Linked DNA regions of Homo sapiens: region 1 is linked to region 2. The links come from fine-mapping of genetic effects on gene expression. A gene starts in region 2. The other region holds a variant in brackets. All regions are shown on one strand. Distances are between the middles of the regions.

Evidence for each region. PIP is the estimated chance that this variant, and not a neighbour inherited with it, causes the effect. A credible set is the group of variants that fine-mapping cannot tell apart.
Region 1: its variant is the best candidate, but not a certain one, in a credible set for the expression of ZNF586 in monocytes after LPS (Fairfax 2014, PIP 0.87).

What each region holds. Positions count from the first base shown.
Region 1 is chr19:57,733,923-57,739,302 of GRCh38, forward strand. No RefSeq gene overlaps it. Among named protein-coding and RNA genes, the nearest start is that of ZNF671, 9.0 kb to the left of the region's middle. The variant CA/C (reference allele first, on the strand shown) is at 2,357.
Region 2 is chr19:57,767,294-57,772,673 of GRCh38, forward strand. It overlaps ZNF586 (zinc finger protein 586), which reads left to right and starts at 2,383. Exons shown (of 3, transcript NM_017652.4): 1 at 2,383-2,585. The coding sequence starts at 2,550. RefSeq lists enhancers at 2,107-2,646, 2,368-2,617.

The DNA of each region.
Region 1 (5,380 bases), 33 kb before region 2:
CATCTGAAGGCACGAAACTCACTGGTAATAGTAACTACACAGAAAAAAAAAACAATATAGTAGCAATGTAACTGTGATGTGTAAACTCATATCTTGAGTAGAAAGACTAAAATATGAACCTATCAAAAACAATTCCAACAAGTTTTCAAGACATAGACAGTACAATAAGATATACATAGAAACAAAAAATTTAAAAGCTGGGTGACATAGTTAAAGTGTAATGTTTTTATTAGTTTTTCTCTTGTTTGTTATTTGTTTATGGGATCAGTGTTGTCATCAGTTTAAAATAATGGGTTATAAGATATAGTTTACCATGGAAGCTTCATGGTAAACTAAATTCAAAAACCTACAACAGATACCAAAAAATTTTTTAAAAAGAAATTAAAATATACAACCAGAGAAAATCACCTTCACAATAAGGAAGACAGGAAGGAAGGAAAGAAGGAAGAGAAGACCACCAAACAACATGGCAGCAGTAAATCCTTACTTATTAATAAAACATTGAATATAAATGGACTAAAGTCTCCAATCAAAACACACAGAGTTGCTGAATGAATAAAAATAAAGACCCAATGCTCTATTGCATACAAGAAACACCCTTCACCTATAAAGACACACATAGATTAAAATAAAAGGATGGAAAAAGATATTTCATGCCACTGGAAACGACGAAATAGCAGGAATAACTACATGTATATCAGAAAAATAGATTTCAAGAGAAAAACTGTGAAAAGAGACAAAGTCATTATATATAATGCTAAAGGGATCAATTCAGCAAGAGGACATAATCTTTGTAAATATATATACACTCAACACTGGAGCACCCAGATATAAAAGTAAATATTATTAGAGCTAAAGAGACAGATAGAGTCTGACACAGTGATAGCTGAAGATGACAACACCCCACTTTCAGCATTGAACAGGCCTTCCAGACAGAAATGGACTTAATCTGCACTATAGAACAAATGGACCTAATAGATATTTATAGAACATTTCATCCAACAGCTTCAGAATACCTATTCTTCTCAGCACATGGATCATTCTCAAAGAAATACTATATGTTAGGCCATAAAATATGTCTTGAAACTTTTTTAAATTGAAATAATATCAAGTACCTTCTCTGACCACAAGGCAATAAAAGTAGAAATCAGTAACAAGTGGACTTTCAAAATGCTACAAACACATGGAAATTAAACAGTCGTCTTCTGAATGACCAGTGGGTCAATTAAGAAATTGAGAAGTTGGGCTGGGCATGATGGCTCACGACTGTAATCCCAGCACTTTGGGAGGTGGAGCCAGGCGGATCACGAGGTCAGGAGTTCAAGACCAGCCTGACCGACATGATGAAACCCTGTCTCTACTAAAAATACAAAAATTAGCCGGGCATGGTGGCACACACCTGTAATCCCAGCTACTCAGGAGGCTGAGGCAGGAGAATTGCTTAAACCCAGGAGGTGGAGGTTGCAGTGAGTGGAGATTGCGCCATTGCACTCCAGCTTGGGAGACAGAGTGAGACTCCATCTCAAAGAGAAAAAAAAAAAAGAAAGAAATTGAAAAGTTTTTTGAGGCCAGGCGCATTGGCTCATGCCTGTAATCCCAGCACTTTGGGAGGCCAAGGCAGGTGGATCACCTGAGGTCAGGAGTTCGAGACCAGCCTGATCAACAAGGTGAAACCATGTCTCTACTAAAAATACAAAAATTAGTCGGGCATGGTGGCGGGCGCCTGTAGTCCTAGCTACTCATGAGGCTGAGGAATTGCTTGAACCCAAGAAGGTGGAGGTGGCAGTGAGCCGAGACTGCGCCGCTGCACTCCAGCCTGGATGATGGAGCAAGACTCTGTCTCAAAAAAAAAAAAAAGAAAAGAAAAGTTTTTTGAAACAAATGATAATAGAAACACAGCATGCCAAAATCTGTGGGATACAGAAAAATAAGTACTAAGAAGAATGTTTATAGCTATAAGTGCCTACATTACAAAAGTAAAAAAAAAAACTTTAAATAAACAACCTAATAATGCATCTTAAAGAATTAGAGATGCTAGAGCAAACCAAACCCAAAGTGAGTAGAAGAAAATAAATAGCTGGGCGCAGTAGCTCACGCCTGCAGTCCCAACACTTTGGGAGGCTGAGGCAGGTGGATCACCGGAGGTCAGGAGTTCGAGACCAGCCTGACCAATAAGGTGAAATTCCATCTCTACTAAAAATATAAAAATTAGCCAGACGTAGTGGCAGGCACCTGTAGTCCCAGCTACTCAGGAGGCTGAGACAGGAGAATTGCTTGAACCCGGGAGGTGGAGGTTGCAGTGAGCCAAGATCACGCCACTGCACTCTAGCCTGGGCAACAGAACAAGACTCTGTCT[CA/C]AAAAAAAAAAAAAAAAAAGGAAAATAAAATAATAAAGATTAGAGCAGAAATAAATGAAACTGAAACAAAGAAAACAATACAAATGTGTTCAACAAAATGATTTTTTTTGTTTGTTTGTTTTTTGTTTGTTTTTTTTGAAATGGGGTCTTGCTCTTATCACCCAGGCTGGAGTGCAATGGCAGGATCTCTGTTCACTGCAACCTCTGCCTCCTGGGTTCAAGCAATTCTCCTGCCTCAGCCTCCCAAGTAGCTGGGATTACAGGCACCCACCACCATGCCCGGCTAATTTTTGTATTTTTAATACAGACGGGGCTTTGCCATGTTGGTCAGGCTGGTCTCGAACTCCTGACCTCGTGATCTGTCCACCTCGGCCTCCCAAAGTGCTGGGATTACAGGCGTGAGCCACCACGCCCGGCCGAGAAATTGGTTTTTTGAAAAGTAAACAAAATAAAAAATCCTTTAGCCAGACTAAGAAAGATAAACCAAATAAAATAGAAGTGAGAAAGAAGACTTTACAGCCAATACTGCAGAAATTCAAAGGATCATTAGAGGCTACTATGATCAACTGTATGCCAAAAATTGGAAATTATAGAAAAAATGGACAAATTCCTAGACACATATAACTTACCAAGATGAATTATGAGGAAATCCAAAACCTGAACTGACAAATAGCAAGCAATGAGATTGAGGCTGTAATAAAAATTTTCCCAGCAAAGAAAAGCCTGGGACCCAATGGCTTCACTACTGAATTTTACCAAACATTTAAAGAACTAACCCCAATCCTACTCGAACTATTCCCAAAAATAAGAGGAGGAGAAAATACTTCTAAATTCATCATACAAGGTTGGTATTACCCTGATACTAAAATAATTTTTTTTCTATTTCCATTTCAATAAGAAATAAGAAAAAGTAAAACAAAGACATATTTGAACCTAATATATTCTTCAGTGATATCATTCCTTTACTGTAAGGAATACTTTTTTTTTCTTTTTTCTTTTTTTTTGAGATGGAGTCTTGCTCTGTCACCAGGCTGGAGTGCAGTGGTGCGATCTCGGCTCACTGCACCCTCCTCCGCCCAGGTTCAAGTGATTTCCCCTGCCTCAGCCTCCCAAGTAGCTGGGACTACAGGAGTGCGCCACCACGCCTGGCTAATTTTTTTGTATTTTAGTGGATACTGGGTTTCACCATGTTGACTAGGATGGTCTCGATGGCCTGACCCCGTGATCCGCCCGCCTCGGGCTCCCAAAGTGCTGGTATTACAGGCGTGAGCCACCACGCCTGGCCGGAGTACTTGTTTTTCAATACCACAGGAGCTATGAGCTGGTCCTCCATTTTGTATCAAAGAATGTGTCCCCAGGTGACAAGATGCAGATTCCAAGACATTGAATCAATATGATGCCACCATCGCTTTCTTTCTGTTCTATGACATCTTTCTAGTCTTACCTTACTATTTCCTTGGCTCTCAGTTGGTTTTTCCTGAGTTCTCAGAAATTGAAATAATACACACTTTGTAGAAATAAGAATTTCATGTTAGTCAAGTCTCTAGGATAGCCATGGGCTCCACTTAATTATCTCAGAACTTACAGCCCCATGTCCTCTGCTCACTATCCATTGAGATTTATGTGTTCTCAGACTTCACAGAAACTTTTCTAGCTACTTATGTCATTCTCAGTGGTAACTTCATTTATCCACAATATTAACTAATTTTCTCAGTCCAAGCTGTTTTCCAGAGGTAATCTCCAGTCCCCATGCCGAAACTATCATTGTACTTACTGCTGAAATGATAGTTCCTTCCCAGCAAGAAGGTGAGATTATTGTACCCAGAATCTTTTCTCAGGGTTCAAATATCCACTTTCCCCATGGCAGGAATGCTGACACTCCAGCCACGGTTTTGTAAATGTGAATTAGTAAATACCAACTATTCCCAGGTGAGTGTTGTGGGCAGCAAGCTACCCAGGTGCTGAGGCAAGAGACCGAGGGCATGAGCCATTCCAGTATAATAAAATATATAAAACAACAAGAGTTATACTAGATCTAGATCATAGATGTAATTATATATGAATATCATTAATCATTAGTTTGTAGCAATTACTCTTTATTCCAGTATTATAATAATACTCGCTCTATAATCATAACCTAGAAAAAACCAGGCCATACAGAGATAGGAGCTGAGGGGACACAGTGAGAAGTGACCAGAAGACAAGAGTGCGAGCCTTCTGTTATGTCCAGACAGGGCCACCAGAGGGCTCCTTGGTCTAGCGGTGATGCCAGCATCTGGGAAGTCTGGTCTAGCGGTAGCCTTAGTGTCAAGGAAAAACAACCGCTACTTAGCGGACCGGGAAAGGGAGTCTCCCTTTTCCCCGGGGGGAGTTTAGAGAAGACTCTGCTCCTCCGTCTCTTGTGGAGGGCCTGACATCAGTCAGGCCCACCCGCAGTTATCCGGAGGCCTAACCATCTCCCTGTGATGCTGTGCTTCAGTGGTCACGCTCCTAGTCCACCTTCATGTTCCATCCTGTACACCTGGCTCTGCCTTCTAGATAACAGTAGCAAAATTAGTGAAAGTACTAAAAGTCTCTGATATGCAGAAATAATGGTGTAAGCTGTCTCTCTCTCTCCCTCTCTCTCTCTGCCTTGGCTGCCAGGCAGAGAAGGGCCCCGCGTCCAGTGGACACATGACCCACATGACCTTACCTATCATTGGAGATGACTCACACTCTTTGCCCTGCCTCTTTTGCTTTGTATCCAATAAATAACAGTGCAGCTAGACATTCAGGGCCACTACCAGTCTCCGCGCATTGGTGGTAGTGGTCCCCCGGGCCCAGCTGCCTTTTCTCTTATCTCTTTGTCTTGTGTCTTTATTTCTACACTCTCTCGTCACCGCACACAGGGAGAGACCCACCGACCCTGTGGGGCTGGTCCCTACAGAGTGTTACAATCAGAAGGAACCAGTTCTGCTCTGAGGTTGAGACATACTCTGAGGGACCTGGAGACATGGTGCAACCTCCTCTCCTTGCCTTATGCC
Region 2 (5,380 bases):
AATTTTTCTATTTTCAGTAGAGACGGGGTTTCACTATGTTGGTGAGGCTGGTCTCGAATTCCTGACCTCGTGATCCGCCCACCTCTGCCTCCCAAAGTCCTGGGATTACAGGCATGAGCCACCGCACCCGGCCAACTTTTTTGTTTGTTTGTTTGTTTGTTTGTTTGAGACGGAGTCTCGCTCTGTCCCCCAGCCTGGAGTGCAGTGGCGTGATCTCGGCTCACTGCAACCTCCGCCTCCCGGGTTCAAGCCATTCTCCTGCCTCAGGCTCCGGAGTAGCTGGGACTACAGGCGCCTGCCACCACGCCCAGCTAATTTTTTTGTATTTTTAGTAGAGACGGGGTTTCATCATATTAGCCAGGATGGTCTCGATCTCCTGACCTCGTGATCCGCCCGCCTCGGCCTCCCAAAGTGCTGGGATTACAGGTGTGAGCCACCGCGCCCAGCCAACTTTTTTTTTAAGTATAGAAAATTTTACAGGTTGGGCGCGGTGGCAGGCGCCTATAATCCCAGCTGCTCGGGGGGCTGAGACAGGAAAATCACTTGAACTTGGCCAAGAGGCGGAGGTTGCAGTGAGCCGAGATCGCAGCAATGCACTCCAGCCTGGGTGACAGAGCGAGACTCCATCTCAAAAAAAAAAAAAAAAAAAGAGGTGGAGATTTCCCAGAACTGAGGTTCCCTCCCCTTTTTAGACTATATAGGGTAACTTCCAAACATTGCCAGGGCATTGGTATACTGTCATGGCGCTGGCGGGAGTTAGTATGCTAATGCATTATAATTAGCGTATAATGAGCAGTGAGGATGACCACAGGTCACTTTCATCACCATCTTGGTTTTGGTGCGTTTTAGCCAGCTTCTTTACTGCATCCTGTTTTATCAGCAGGGTCTTTGTGACCTGCATCTTGTGCCAACCTCCTATCTCATCCTGTGACTAAGAATGCCTAACCTGGGAATGCAGCCGAGTATTTCTCAGCCTTACTTTATCCAGCCCATTTTCAAGATGGAGTCACTCTGATTCCAATGCCACTGACAATGATAAGCACTTGCCAGCAAAGAGGTGAACGCATGGATTTAAGGCACTTGAAATATCTCAGTGTAAAAGCACCCTGTGCATGTAGCAGGACGAGCCGCAGACAAAACCTCTCAGACACCGAGTTGCAGAAGGAAGGGCTTTATTCAGCTGGGAGCATTGGCCAGCTACTGTCTCAAAATCTGAGCTCCCGGAGTGCACAATTTCTGTCCCTTTTAAGGGCTCACAACACTAAAGATTTCACATGAAAGGGTCGTGATTGATTTGAGCAAGCAAGGGGTATGTGACAGGGGCTGCATGCACCGGTGGTCAGGGAGGAACAGAACAGGGCAGGGAGTTTCACAATGTTCTTCTATACAATCTAAGGAATCTATGAATAACATCGGCTTCTAAATCATAAGTTGATTTTTAACTACTGGGTTTAGGCCAGGCGGGCCTAGGCCTGGTTTCGGGCCTGGCGCGGGGTTGCCTGTCTTTGGTTTTACTTCCTTGTTGTTTTTACTGAATATAAAACAATGTGAGAGGGTCTCTCTCTTCTCTCATGCATACATACTCCATGTTTGAACACCGCAGCCATTGTCCTGTAACATAATAGCATTTGTCTCATTAGCTTTTTGATGTTGATATCAGATTTCTAGAGGAATCTGTAGGTTAAAGATATAAATAAAAGTGTTGCTAATGGGCTGAGAACGGTGGTTCACGCCTGTAATCCTAGCACTTCGGTAGACCATTGCAGGCAGATCACTTGAGGCCAGAAGTTCGAGACCAGCCTGGCCAAAATGAGGAAACCCCGTCTCTACTAAAAATACAAAAATTAGCAGGGTATGGTGGCACACGCCTGTAATCCCAGCTACTCGGATGGTTGAGGCACGAGAATCGCTTGAACCCGGGAGGCATAGGCTGCAGTGAGCCAAGATCACACCACTGCACCCCAGCCTGAGTGACAGAGAGAACTATGTCTTAAAAAAAAGACAAAAAAAAAAAAAAAAGGAAGAAGCCGAGCATCACAAATTCTGAAATAAGAAGTCTCCAAACACGCGGGCAATCAGTTGCACACAGTACCCCCAGAAATGTGCGTATGGCCTCTTCTAAGATGGGAGACCCTCCTCCGCATCTGGACCTGGAGTCGCCATTTCCTAGCGCCCCTCGCAGTGGAGCTTGCCCCTTTCTTCGGAAAGTCGGAAGAAAGCCACCTTAAGCGCTGCCCATGTCTGGGAACTACATTACCCAGAATCCGCCCTGCGAAATGGTAACGTGGCTGAGCCAATGAAGCTTCAGAGAAGCCGTGCCATTGCCGGGGCACGTAAAGTCAAGCCAGGACTTCCGGCGTCCTAGCCGTGGCAGCCATTTTGGCCTGTCAGGTCCATCCGGCGATGCTGGGTCTGGACGAGCTCGGGAGGAGTGGTTGTGGCCATTGCACACAGGCGGATCTGAGGTTCGGCGACGCCGCTGGTCGCGACCCGGGACAGGACAACGACAGGAACACCGCCGAGCCCGCGTTCCCCCCCCGCCCAGAGTCATGGCGGCAGCAGCCGCTCTGAGGGCGCCTGCTCAGGTGAGCGCTGCGACCTCCGGGCCTTACCCACCCTACCCACCCAGACCCTGAGGCCCCTGATCGTGAGGGCCGCCTCCTCGCGTCCCTGCAGCCCAGGCCTCTGTCAGGGACGGAGAGGCGCCGGCGGGTGGGATCCCTGTTTCCGACACCCAGTTGATGCGGTCGGCAGAGCGAGACTGGCGGAGGGCAAAGGCCTGCAGGCGCGACTGAGGCAGGAGGATGCGGAACACGGGGACATCGTGTGTCTACTGGGAAAGAAGTGTGATACGGAGTTATTTCTTTTTTTTTTTTTTTTTGAGACGGAGTCTCACTCTGTCGCCCAGGCTGGAGTGCAGTGGCGCGATCTCGGCTCACTGCAAGCTCCACCTCCCCGGTTCAAGCGATTCTCCTGCCTCAGCCTCCCGAGTAGCTGGGATTACAGGCATGCGCCACCACGGGGTTTCACCATGTTGGCTAGGCTGGCCTCGAACTCCTGACCTTAGGTGATCCGCCCACCTCGGCCTCCCAAAGTGCTGGGAATACAGGCGTGAGCCACCGCGCCTGGCCGAGGCGGAGTTGTTTCTTCAGTACCAGGCTGAGGGTTGAACTTTGACTGTGAGGACGCTAAAAGCCATGGACAGTTTTGAACAAAGGAGGAAATCTGTGTTAGAGTTGCGATTCCCAAAAGATGTTCGAAGGAAGAACAGAGTTGAAGGCAGTGATGAGGACATTGAGAGGTTGAATCATTGAGAGGTGACATTGAGCACTGGGCCACAAGATTAGAGACTCAGTCTGAAGTCATCTGGCTGCAGGGCCAAAAAAAGCTTACAGAGAAGCCTGAGTCTATCAAATCCGAGCACAGACACATTTGTGAAAGCCCTGCCTTTTGGCACACCTCATGGCTACAGAAGCACTTACAGAATCCACAGTAGGAAGTAGGGGATGCTCTAGTCCTTCACTGGTCCTCATCCTATCCCACATGTCTAGATCTTGGCATCTTTTTTTTTTTTCGGCGACGGGTTCTCACTCAACACCCAGGCTGGGTTGCGGTGACGCGATCACGGCGCAGCACGGCCTCGACCTCTCCGGGCTCAGGAGAGCCTCTCATCTCAGTCTCCCGAGTAACTGGCTTTTTGTATTTTTAGTAGAGGTGGGGTTTCACGGCCGGGCGCGGTGGCTCACGCCTGTAATCCTAGCACTTTGGGAGGCCGAGGCGGGCGGATCACGAGGTCAGGAGTTTGAGACCATCCTGGCTAACACGGTGAAATCCCCCCTCTACTAAAAATACAAAAAATTAGCCAGGCCTGGTGGCACACACCTGTAGTCCCAACTACTTGGGAGGCTGAGGCAGGAGAATCGCTTGAACCCGGGAGGCAGAGGTTGCAGTGAGCCGAGATCGCGCCACTGCACTCCAGCCTGGGCGACAGAGAAAGACTCCGTCTGAAAAAAAAAAAAAAAAGAGAGAGAGAGAGATGGGGTTTCGCCATGTTGCCCAGGCTAGTCTCGAACCCTTGGGCTCAAGCAGTCCTCTTGCTTCGGCTTCCCAAAGTGCTGGGATGCCAAGCAGGAACTACCGCACCTCCTAGGACACTTAAGTGCCATTTCTCCGGTCCTTCAATCTGGGGATCTTGGAAAAACCTCAAACCCCAAACCTACATCAGTGACATAGGTTATGGGGAGTTGTTGCTATGTCTGTCAACTAATGTAACACATGTGGAGGGTTCACCCAGGAACTGATACTGGGGTGTGCAAATACTTACTTAGAAGTGAAACTAGAGGGGTGAGGTGATGTTACCAATTTCTTAATAGGCGCTGTCTGGTTACTGAGTGGGCAACAGACTGTGGGGTTGAGGGAGGAGGAAGATCAAACTGGAAGCTACTGCCCTAGTCGAGGTGAGGATTAATGGACTAGAGTTGTGGCTTAGGCAATGTGGCTAGATCTGGATTTGTGTTTTTTAGAGGGGCAAGTCAATTTTTTTTTTCCCAAGATGGAGTCTGGACCTGTTGCCCAGGCTGGAGTGCAATAGTGGAATCTTGGCTCACTGCAACCTCCGCCTCCTGAGTTCAAGCGATTCTCCTGCCTCAGCCTCCGAAGTAGCTGGGATTACAGGCGCGCGCCTCCACACCCAGCTAATTTTTGTATTTTTAGTAGAGACTAGGTTTCGCCATATTATCCAGGCTGCCTCGAACTCCTGACCTCGTGATCCACCCGCCTTGGCCTCCCAAAGTGCTGGGATTACAGGCTTGAGCCACCGTGCCCAGCCTGGCAACTCAATTTTTAAATGTGAACAGTGAGAGCTTGAGAGGATTCAGGAAACACCCCTGGGTTTTTTATCTTAGCAGCTGTAGCAATGGGAGCTGCATCAACTGAGATGAGCAAGTTGATAGCAGGTGTAATATTCACTGAGGCTATCAGGAGGTTTGTTTTGGCCATTCTGCGTGGAAAAAAATACAAATTGCTTTTGCTCTGCTCTCCCCCACAACAATCAACACAGAGTACTTCTGTGACTAGATAATGTGTGGATGGTTTTCCTCATACACCAAGTAGTTCTGCAGTGGACATCAGATCCCACAGGGTGAAGTCTCAGTCCCACGGGACTGTCCGCCAACCCCTTTCGATGCCAATCACAAGCCCCAGGATGTTTTTTTTTTTTTACCTGTCCTTTGACTGACTTGATAAAAATCAGGTTCCCATGACCCCTTCCTCGGCTTCCATTAAATTGCTAGAGCCAGTCACAGAACCTCAGGAGATGCTTTAATTTGCCAGTTTATTTTAAAGAGTATTTATTACAAAGGTTACAGATGAAGAGATGCAT